Homo sapiens: one gene and its partners. The protein of the gene in region 1 interacts with the protein of each later gene in a pairwise test. Each region holds a gene or a part of one and is shown in the gene's direction. Other genes may lie near its edges.

Region 1 (3,746 bases):
CTGGAGTTGCCGATGACTGGGATGGAGAAGATTTTTAGGAGATGTAGCCGGAAGGGATGGCAGGAGTTCAGCTGGCGACATGCTGGACTTAAACACCAGCTAGGCTTCAGGAAATGTTGAGGATGCAGGTGGATGTGAATTTGTTATTCAGGGGTGAGGTCACAGCTGGAGATACATATGAGCTTCATTAACCTGTGTATGATATTCAAAGCCATAAGACAGGGGCGATCACAGCAAATAGCAAAGAAAAGAGGCCTAACCATAAGCCCTGGGGCCCTCCATATTTAGAGGTTAGGGGAGTAGAAGAAAACCACAAAAGGGACAGTGAAGCCAGAAACACAGCAGGAAGCCCTGGTGAGCACTGGGAGAAGGGGTTTCCAGGAGCGCAAGTGATCAGCTGCTGCTGATAGGTCAGGTTTGGTGAGGCCACATGCCTGCCTCTTGGTTACTAGAGTTACTTATGCGTGGACAGCCCGAGGCATGGAGTGATGACCTGTGCCTAAGTGTCAAGGAGAAGACAAGCAGGTCCGGAATGGTAAAAATGTCAGCACATCTTTGGGAAGTTGTGGAGCCCAGCCAGTAAGCCAACACGGCTGGATACCAGGGTGCTTAGGCCATAGCAAACTGCATGTGAGCCGGTGAAGGCTCAGCAGGCTTTAAACGGGGATGCCGGCCCGGCTGGCTGAGTTTCAGAAAGACCACGCCGATGGCTGGGGGCAGGGACTCAGCCAGTGTCCTCAATCCAGGACCTTGTGGGACCGCCCGGCAGCCAGTGCTTCCGCAAATCTGAAGGGTCCCATTTGCCTCAAAGCGGCGAGACGAGCCTTCCAAGCGCTGCTGCAGTGCGGTCCCAGCTCCGCGGGGGGTCCCCGGGGATGACCTAAATCGGGGATTGCGGTGGGACAGACGGTCCAGGGGCTAAGGAACCCCGTGGAGCAGGCAGCGGCGCTCAGGAGGCAGCAGCTTGAGATCCACGGCTCGATTTTTAAAAATTGTAAGGGAGAAGGATGCCTCGAAAGCCTCTGTGGTATTTTGTCGCATCTCGCACCCCTGTCTAAACTTCAGTCCACTCGTGGAGTGTGGACCCCCACGCCGCATGGGCTCAGGAGGCGCTTCGCCTTTGGAAAGAAATCGCATGTATTAAGGGAAAGCACGTGTGCTACTTTGAGAAAGGAGGCAGAAAGTTACCAAACGCGGGAAGGGGAGGCTCGCCAACCAAGCGAGGCCGTGGGACACTGGCGAGTCGCAGAGGCTCCTGGAGCCAGCCGCTTGGAAACAAACAACAACGCGGCGGGCGAACTCCCGGGCAGCCTCCCCCGTGCCGGGGCGCGGGGGCCGCCGCGAGAACCCGGGCAGGAGCTGGCAGGCGCGGGGCCTGGCCGGCGGGAGGGTCCCGCACCCCGGCCCAGTGTGAACACCCCGCGCACCCCCCTGGCCCGGCCCGCCGGGGGCGCGGACTACAAGTCCCAGGAAGCCCAGAGGCAGGCGCGGGGCGGGGCCTGGCGCAATTCCCCGGGATCCGGCGCGCTGGGAAGCGCCGAGGAGGACGCAGCGCCGGCGGCCGGAGGGCGGCAAGCGCGCGGGCAGGCGGGGCGCGGGCGCGGGCGCGGGCGAGGGCGAAGGCGGGGGCGGGGCCGACGTGGGCCGGAGCCCTGCGTGCCAGGGAGGGGGCCGGCCGGGCAGGCGGCGGGCGGCGCTCGGAGCGGGCTCCGCGGCTTGCAAGGCGCCTGCGACTCGGTCCCAGGTCGGCGGGCGGCGCACGGCGGGCTCGCGCGGGGGCCCCGGCGCGCCGGGCGGCGCAGTACGCAGCGCGCGGACCCACGCCACGGCCAGGAGCCCAGAGCAGCGCGGCCACACTGCCCAGGGGTCGGCCCTCGGCCCCGGCGCTCGGAGCGCGGCGGCTGCCTGGGCTTTAATGGCTGCTCCGCGGAGCAGCGCCTAGGGCTGGAAGGCGGCTGCGGCTCAGGAAGTCACCCGAGCAAGCCTCCTTCGGGGCCGGCCGCACCCGCCGCGGCGCGCTCCATGGGGGCGCGCTCCCCCCGGGCGGCCCGCTGACCCGGGACGCCGGGGCCCGCTCGCTCGCCGGCCGCGCGTCCCGGCCATGAACTGAGCCCGCGGGCCAGCCCCGCGCCTGCTCCGCCCGCGCCTTTCTTCTCGCGCCTCCTCCGCCCGCCGCCGGCGGGCCCGGCTCCCCGGGGGCTGCGGCGCCCCGGGCTCGGCGGCCCGCGGGCCCCGGGGCGCGGGGCGGCGGCGGCGGGGGGCGCGCGGCTCCGGGCGCGGCGCCTGCACCATGAACTACCAGCAGCAGCTGGCCAACTCGGCTGCCATCCGGGCCGAGATCCAGCGCTTCGAGTCGGTCCACCCCAACATCTACTCCATCTACGAGCTGCTGGAGCGCGTGGAGGAGCCGGTGCTGCAGAACCAGATCCGGGAGCACGTCATCGCCATCGAAGGTGAGGGCCGGGCCGCCTTGGGGCCTCGGGAAGGCACGGACGCCCGCGGCGCGGCGGGGGTGTGCGCTGTGTGCGTGCGGGTGTCCACACACGCCGGCCGGGGCACGCGGCTGCTCCGCCGAGGGAGCACTGCGGCGCTGCTTGTCTTGCAAGGCCGGGCGAGCGTCGCCTGCGCCCCGCCGCGCCGCGAGCTCCGCCAGGAAGATAGATCGTCAGCGTTAATTTGATCGTGGACAATAGAGTCTCTCCTGCGGGAAAGTGGCTCGGTGCCTCCGCGTCCTGGGCTGCCGGAGCGTCCCGGCCCAGCAGACGCCTGGGGGCAGCCGGCGGGGTCGGCGCCACCCGACCCCTGACAGGTTACCAGGCCAGGCCTGGGCGTCTTGCTGGACGTTGAAGACGTGTTCTGAGAAGTGCTGCCGCTGGGGGCGAGGCCCGGGCCGGCGTGTTTGGGCGGTGCAGGGCTGCCCTCCTTAGTGTGTTTGCTTAATTCAGGGGTGCAGTTGAACTTAGTGGATGCCGAGAGCCAGCCCTAGCCGCGGGAGCATCGTGTCCAGGTGCCCCTGTGCAAACGCTGGAACCGGTAGTGTGCTTTGTACCAACCAAAAGTCCGGGGTTGGATTAGAGGAAGAACCCTACCAGGAGGGCAGGGCGTCCTCCAGCGGAAGGGTCTCGCTTTCATATGTCTGCAGTTGGAGGCCACTGAAGTGGAGGGTGCTGTGGTTTTAAGAGGGGCAGGATGCTTGGGCAGAATCCCCACCCGCTTCCCTCTGCATGTCAGGCAGGGCCATGGCCTTCCAGGAGAGCTACAGCAGCAGTCTGCCTTCCGGGGCTGTGCCCTCTGGATTTCTGGTGGCTCTCATTTCTCTGTTTCCAGGCTGCTGATTTATTTTCTTGCTTCATCCCTTTGGTCCGGCCAAGACTCACCTGGGGCACCAGGTGGCATGTGCGTGGACAGTGTGGAGTCATATCTTAGCCACAGTTGATCAGCACTTTCTCCCTTCTCAGCGCTGTTGGCCAGTGATGGTAAAAAGCCTGCAGAGTGGCTTGTCCATAATACAGACTGGCCGGTAAGACCTCTATTGAGGAACATTGAGAATGGCCCAAAGCCGGCAGGAATGTGCCTGAAAGCCTGGTGCTGGCGTTGCCCAGCCTCCTCCCTCTGTGAGGGAGAGGGTATCAGCCCACAGAGAGGCTTTGCCTTGGCACTATGTAGTCTGAACTACTAACCCCGAAGTGCTTTGGTTTGAAACTTGGCCAGTTAGGTGGAGAAAGTGGATGTTGTGTTGCTGAGCC
Region 2 (3,746 bases), on another chromosome or scaffold:
ATCCACTCAGCAGGCATTTTAGTGAATCCCGTTATGAACCATTTTCATTACTAGGAAATTAGGCTGTGAAGATTAGTATTTCCCTAACAACAAGGAACTCTTGTTACTTTTTTAGAGCATATCAAACATCCAGATTACAGAATGTCTTTTGCAGTCACCTTTTGGTGGTTCTAGCCACCCTTATGTTTAGATTGGTTGCTTCCTCTTCTTACCCATTGTCTGACAGTCAGAAAGGATAGAGGAGGAAGAAGACAAGACACTATCCAGTTGAGAGTCTACTCTTAGTAAAACTCGGTAGCTCCTGGCAGAATGTACTGGGGTCAAATGCAATACTAATCAAGGAGTTTGGTGTGCCATAAAACTTGAGAATGGTAAAAGTAGAAATTAATGGGTTAAACAAGTCATTTTCCAGAATGAAAGGAATATTGGTAATGGTATCAACAGACGAGGACAACAGCAACAACAAAGTCTTTATACAAGCCTGCAACACGTGACAACTGCGGATCAGGCATCTGAACCCGGCCTATCTTTCCACCGTATCTTCCTACACTTTTCTTTATGTACTTTTTATTTCTACCAGATGGTATTACTCCTTGTTTCTTGAATAACAGTGTCATGCCTTTCCAACCTCTGTATGTTTGCTCACAAGTTTCCCTCTGTCAGAGAAAAGCAAAAACAACAAAAAAGTCCTCTATTTTATCTTTTTCCAAACATAACCAATCCTTCAAGTCCTATCTCTAGTACTGTTCCTTTATGAACCCTGTCAGACAATATCTCATTTTCTTCTGAATGTTCATAGCATTTACTTAAAAATAGTATGACTTCCCTCTTCTTTTTACTAATGAATTACTGTGTATTTTTTAAGTTTCCTTCTACATCTGAAGTTCTAAATATTCTTAGTACAAATGTCCTACTGATCTAAGAGAGTATCATGGGTTAAATGTAGAGGAAGAGAAGTTTCTGAGATGGCAGGAAGGCAAAAGTTTCTGTGACTACCTGTGCTTATATTGCTGACTTTCTTAACTGTTCCTGACTTATTTAAATGTATTTTTTTCCTGATTCTGATTAATGTTCACTATGAGGCAAGCACAGTAGGCAAGACTGGGAGAAAGTTTGCAAATGTGATGAGCTTACAAATGGGACCAGATTAGATGGTGTACTTGGGGGAGATATAAAAGAGGAAGATAACCATGAATTGAACTGAATTGAAAATGGATCACATAAAGATCATGATTAATTGTTAATTCACAATGGAACAGCATGATGGGATTTTTTTAAGTCAGAAAGGTGACTAAAAGCATAATATCACAACACACACAACGGTAACAAATATAACTAAATGCACTGAACCAGGCAGAAGCCAGACCTTACTGAAAAGATGTAAAATCTCTGTAACCATAAAACTGCATCTGCAAATGAGTAGATTGGCTTCAAATCTGAAAACCAGGACAAGAGAGTCATCAGCGCAGATGTCAACTTCCCCAGCAGAAATGTTGGAGTTTTTAACTGTGGAAAACTACAGTTTTTCCACACCAGTGCATAGTGGAGAAGACATGTTTTTGTTTTTCTTTTTAAGTGTGCCAAATTTTCCTGGAGTCCCCTCCAATTTTTTTCTTTCTCTCTCTCTCTCTCTTTTTTTTTTTTTGTCCCCTGCCCCTAGGTCTCTGTCTCCACACAGTGATTTCTGTTATGGCGATTGGGCGGCTGCAGAGACCAGGACTCAGTTCCCCTGCCCTAGTCTGAGCCTAGTGGGTGGGACTCAGCTCAGAGTCAGTTTTCCAGAAGCAGGTTTCAGTGCAGAGTTTTCCTACACTTTTCCTGCGCTAGAGCAGCGAGCAGCCTGGAACAGACCCAGGCGGAGGACACCTGTGGGGGAGGGAGCGCCTGGAGGAGCTTAGAGACCCCAGCCGGGCGTGATCTCACCATGGTGCGTTTTGGCTGCTACTTTCTTTTTCAGTCTTTCGGTGCGGAGAAGGGGAGGAGGCGGGCAGAGGTCTGAAAAAATCGAATGCCTTATGGAAAGGAACTGCAAGGGTTCCTTTGGGGTGATCAAAGAGGGAGACACAGACACAGAGAGACAAAGGCAAGGAGGACTGTCTGGGAGCCACGCGGGCGATACAGTTTCCGAGGCACGCCGCGTCCCGCCTAGCCTGTTGAACAGGTAGACATGAGCGACCCAAGCGTAAGTGCCGCTGCCGCGAGTGCCCAGGGTGCACTCGCGCGGGGACCGACAGGTGCCACTGCAGGGTCCCCTCTCCCGCTCACTGCCTGCCACCCCTGACGCCTGCTCTCTTTCTCCATTCGCAGTGCGGATTTGCGAGGCGCGCCCTGGAGCTGCTAGAGATCCGGAAGCACAGCCCCGAGGTGTGCGAAGCCACCAAGTAAGTGGTCGCTGCATCCCCACGCGGGTCGGGGTTCTTCAGACAGGCGGTCCCTCTTCCGGGACCCCCGCTTGGGCTGGGTCTCCTTCCTCTCCTGAGAAACCTTCGGTACGCTCCCAGTTGCCCAGCCCTGGGAAGCCAGCATCGGGTTCCCACGCTGGGGAGGAGCGAGAGGAAAGGAGAGGACGCCCGAGGGGCCGGCCCAGGGCCCGGGGGACCCGCGGCGCCCGAGGGAGGAGCACAGACGGGGGTGGGCGCCGAGCAGCGCCGCGCCGGCTGCTGAGCTCGCGGGGCCGGGCCGTGAGAACGCGCGGGGCGCGCCGGGGCCGCTGGTCTCCCACGGCCAGGGCGCCTGGGCCCCAGAGCCCATCAGCCGCGTGCAGCGCTGCGGCCTCCGGCGCGCCGGCAGGCAAGCGAGCGGGCGCAGCTGGGGGATGCCTGGACCCCGGAGGCAGCAGGGCTGGAGGCGGTGGCGGGCTTCAGGGCAACTTCACCCGGCCGGCTGCGGCGTGGGTAAGAGGCGCGTCCTCCTCCACAGCAAAAGCTGCGATCGCTGGGCTGCCCAGAGAAGGCAGCCGGCTAACTGCCCAGCGGCTCCACGAGGTGTGCGCGTGTGTGCGAGAGAGACAAATGATTTACTGCTTAGCAGTCCCATTTCTGTTTTCGTTAGGACTGCGGCTCTTGGAGAAAGCGTGAGCAGGGGGCCACCGCGGTCTCCGCGCCTGTCTGCACCCTGTCGCCTGAGCTGCCTGACAGTGACAATGGTGTGAGGGGCTGCGTTGCAATGTGGTCATGTGATTTCAGGCTATGGATTTCGTGCGTCTTTCTCTGCTCACTGATTTTCACATGGTTATTCTTTCATTTTGCACTCGATAAACAGTTTACATCTTCTGAAGTAAGCCAGAAGATTGTATGGCTCACTTAACGATGACTGGTTGAAGGCATCTTGATTTGGAACCTATGGAAACAGTGCTGAGTTTTAAATAGGACAGATTTTTTTTTCTTTCATTTGAACTTCATTTATAACATATCAATAGTGATGTTTTAGGATCAGTTCTCCTATGGTAATTTCACTAAATGCCTATTTAATGAATTGATTTGATTTCATACATCTCTACCACTTACTAGAACTGTCTTTGTACAAACGTCAAACTTTCCTGTTACATATGGGTAAGCATAGAAGCACTTGATATAATTTTTTTTTATCTTGGTTCAGAGTGTAGAAGTGGTCTGTTGCTTTTCCTAAAATTGCTATACATATTTTTTCTTTAAGAGTGATCATTTCAGGTACCCTATTATGTACAGTGGTAAAAAGTAAACTCGTTATGATAGCAACGACGATGTAACCAAAATAAGCAACACTTA
Region 3 (3,746 bases), on another chromosome or scaffold:
GACATCACTGAGGTACAGCCAGTTGCATTTCACTAGGCTCAAGAGGATTGCTGCCTCAAGCAGGATAACCAGGCCTGCCTGGAACAGTGCCATAGTCCGGGATCCCAGTGACCTGGGTGAGAAGTTGCTATTCAGGTCAAAGAAAATTTCTTCAGGTGACCCCACTGTCTCTAGCCAATAGTCCTGCTTGTGGATCTTACGTATTTGTGTTTCAAAACTACCTGAGGTCCTGATGTGGGGTCCTTACCTCCTGTGCACAGTGACTCATGCCTGTAATTTGAGTACTTTGGGAGTGTAGACAGAAGGAAAACTTGAGGCCAGAACTTGGACACCCGGCTGGGCAACAAAGTGAGACTCCATCTCTACAAAGTAATAATAATATATAAAACTAAAAAATTAGCACAGTCCAATGTCACAGGCCTGTACTTCCAGCTACTCGGGAGACTGAGGTAGGAGGTGCCCATGACCCCAGGAAGTCAAGGTTGTAGTGAGCTATGATTGTGCCACTGCACTCCAGCCTGGATGTCACAGGTTGATTCCCTGTCTTTAAAAAAAAAAAAAAAGTCTTAAACTAAATAATTTATACCTATTTTTAAAGTTATTGGCTTTTTTAAAAAGAGTTGGTGACCTGACTTCACACTGACCTTAGTCCTCTATGCCCAAGGTGGTGTCCCTAGGAAAGTTTCTGGAATTGAGCACAGGGTTGACCTCACCCTCTGGAGTGAATGGGGAATGTAAATGAAAAGTATTTCTAGCCGGGCGCGGTGGCTCACGCCTGTAATCCCAGCACTTAGGGAGGCTGAGGCGGGCGGATCATGAGGTCGGGAGATCGAGACTACGGTGAAACCCAGTCTCTACTAAAAATACAAAAAAAATTAGCCAGGCATGGTGGCGGGTGCCTGTAGTACCAGCTACTCGGGAGGCTGAGGCAGGAGAATGGTGTGAACCCGGGAGGCGAAGCTTGCGGTGAGCCGAGATTGTGCCACTGCACTCCAGCCTGGACGACAGAGCAAGACTCCATCTCAAAAAAAAAAAAAAAAGTATTTCTATTCTATGGGGCATTGGCATGATACTGCGCATTCCACTCTGGCAGGGTTTAGCATTTCACACTTTAGCTTCCATCCCCTTCACAGATAGTTCCAAAGTGTCTTAATTCCTAAAATTTGTCTTTCTGGCTGGGCATAGTGGCTCACGCCTGTAATCCCAACACTCTGGGAGGCCGAGGCGGGCAGATCACCTGAGGTCAGAAGTTCAAGACCAGCCTGGCCATGGTGAAACCCCGTCTCTACTAAAAATACAACAAATTAGTCGGGTGTGGTGGTGCGCACCTGTAATCCCAGCTACTCGGGAGGCTGAGGCAGGAGAATCACTTGAACCTGGGAGGCATAGGTTGCAGTGAGCCGAGATCTCATCATTGAGCTTCAGCCTGGGCAACGAGCGAAACTCTCAAACAAACAAACAAACAAAAAAAATGTCTTTCTTTCGTTCTTTCTTGTCTCTCCCTTTTTCTCACACACAGGCACAGACACCTACATTCTTTTCTTTGTTGCACTATTTCTCTCTAGTCTTATTTTCTTTCTTTCTTTTCTTTTTTTTTTTTTTTTTTGAGACGGAGTCTCACTCCATCGCCAGGCTGGAGTGTAGTGGTACGATTTCGGCTCACTGCAACCCTGCCTCCCGGGTTCAAGTGATTCTCCTGCCTCAGCCTCCCGAGTAGCTGGGACTACAGGCGCCCACCACCACACCCAGCTAATTTTTGTGTTTTTAGTAGAGACGGGGGTTTCATCATGTTGGCCAGGATGGTCTCGATCTCCTGACCTCGTGATCCGCCCGGCTTGGCCTCCCAAAGTGCTGGGATTACAGGAGTGAGCCACCGCACCCGGCCTTGTCTTTCTTTTTGCTTTCTTTTCACGCTCTCTTCTCTCTCTGCTTCCAGAGTAGTTGGGACTTAAAATTTATTGTAATAACAGGAATTCTCGTGGATCTAATCTAATCACCAACCGATTTTGCTCTGCCCCAGCAAGATCTGTTTACAGATCTGTTTACAGAAGTGCTGAGCAGATCTCGCCTCCAAAACCCTAAAACAGGATCGCTGAGTCAGACTGACAGAAGCATAGACCCCGCCTTGAGCCCGCCCTGTCCCGGCCCTGCCCTCGGCCCCGGGCCCGGCCTGTACGATGCGCGCGCAATTTCCTGCAGACCCGGAAGTCGAGATCATGGAGTGAACGTTTCGCGCGCTTTTTCCTGTAGACCCGGCACCCGACTGCGCGGAAAGACTGTCTAAGCCGCCACTCGTGAGTTTGCCTTTGTCTAGATTAAATTTAGGCTGCCCAGTTCCTGTGTGCTTCTACACCCGCGATCTGAGGGCTCATGCAGACCTTGAAGTCCCGGCACCGCTCTATCCACTCCAAGTAAATTCAGACATTCTCTAGAGAGTCTGGAGGTCGCTTACCTGCGTGTTAAAACCGCTTGGAGGCTTCTAGGCCGGGCGCGGTGCCTCACGCCTGTAATCCTGGCACTTTGCTATTTTTTTTTCATTTTTTGTAATTATTCAGTCTAGTTGATTGAATCCATTGATGTGTACCCCAGAGATACCAAGGGCTGACTTTAGACTGTATCTGCTCGTTAGTCACTTAATAGTCTTTTTTTTTTTTTTTTTCCTGAGACTGAGTTTTGCTCTTGTTGCCCAGGCTGGAGTGCAATGGCGTGATCTCGGCTCACTGCAAACTCCGCCTCCCGGATTCAAGCGATTCTCCCGCCTGGGCCTCCCGAGTAGCTGGGATTACAGGCATACGCCACCATGCCTCTCTAATTTTGTATTTTTAGTAGAGATGGGGTTTCACCATGTTGGCCAGGCTGGTCTCGAACTCCTGACCTCAGGTGATCTGCCCGCCTCATCCTTTCAAAGTGCTGGGATTACAGGCATGAGCCACCGTACTTGGCCAATAGTCTTTTGGATGAGATCCACTTTTATGGTATCTCAGTGCTTTTTTTTCATGTAACCCTTTTTTTTTTCCCTTAACAATGCCCTCCAGGCACATGAGTATTGATTGATGCTGACAATTTTTTTTTTGGGTTTTTTTGAGACAGAGTCTCACTCTGACGCCAAGGCTGGAGTGCAGTGGCACTGTGTTGGCTGACTGCAACCTCTGTCTCCTGGGTTCAAGCAATTCTCCTGCCTCAGTCTCCCGAGTAGCTGGGATTACAGGTGTCCACCACCACGGCCGGCTAGTTTTTATATTTTTAGTACAGACAGGGTTTGACCATGTTGGCCAGGCTGGTCTTGAACTCCTGACCTCAGGTGATCCACCTGCCTCGGCCTCCCAAAGTGCTGGGATTACAGGCGTGAGCCACTGCGCCCGGCCTTGATGCTGACAATTTGGATATGCCAGTGAGAAGCTGTAACATGGAGTCTTTAAGGGGAATTAATAGGGTTTAGTACTGATGGAGGTTTCAGGCATCCATTGGGGCTCTTGGAACATAGTGCACATCGATAAAAGGATTCTACTATAGTCTATATCTAGAATTGAGCACTGTGATCCACAGAGGGCTGAGGGGCCTGTGCTCTGCATGAGCTTTGGTCAGGGTGAGGTCTGTGCTTTTTTTTTGTTTTTTTTTGAGATAGAGTCGCACTCTGTCACCCAGGCTGGAGTGCAGTGTTAAAATCTTGGCTCACTGCAACCTCTGTCTCCTGGGTTCAAGCAATTCTCCTGCCTCAGCCTCCTAAGAGCTGGGATTATAGGTGC

Evidence for each region.
Region 2: the proteins of AGAP1 (region 1) and GUCY1A1 interact in a two-hybrid assay, tested with the Homo sapiens proteins (one study listed by BioGRID).
Region 3: the proteins of AGAP1 (region 1) and ZNF534 interact in binary tests that used the Homo sapiens proteins (3 or more experiments, as listed by UniProt).

The regions. Positions count from the first base shown.
Region 1 is NC_000002.12:235,492,397-235,496,142, forward strand, and holds the start of AGAP1 (arf-GAP with GTPase, ANK repeat and PH domain-containing protein 1), read left to right. Parts: upstream 1-1,646; 5' UTR 1,647-2,290; coding exon 2,291-2,453; intron 2,454-3,746. UniProt on the Homo sapiens protein: GTPase-activating protein for ARF1 and, to a lesser extent, ARF5. Directly and specifically regulates the adapter protein 3 (AP-3)-dependent trafficking of proteins in the endosomal-lysosomal system.
Region 2 is NC_000004.12:155,665,039-155,668,784, forward strand, and holds the start of GUCY1A1 (guanylate cyclase soluble subunit alpha-1), read left to right. Parts: upstream 1-1,809; 5' UTR 1,810-1,927; exon of another isoform or gene 1,928-2,182; intron 2,183-2,299; exon of another isoform or gene 2,300-2,307; 5' UTR 2,308-2,381; intron 2,382-2,623; exon of another isoform or gene 2,624-2,815; coding exon of another isoform or gene 2,816-2,984; intron 2,985-3,051; exon of another isoform or gene 3,052-3,551; intron 3,552-3,746.
Region 3 is NC_000019.10:52,426,951-52,430,696, forward strand, and holds the start of ZNF534 (zinc finger protein 534), read left to right. Parts: upstream 1-2,197; 5' UTR 2,198-2,294; intron 2,295-3,746. UniProt on the Homo sapiens protein: May be involved in transcriptional regulation.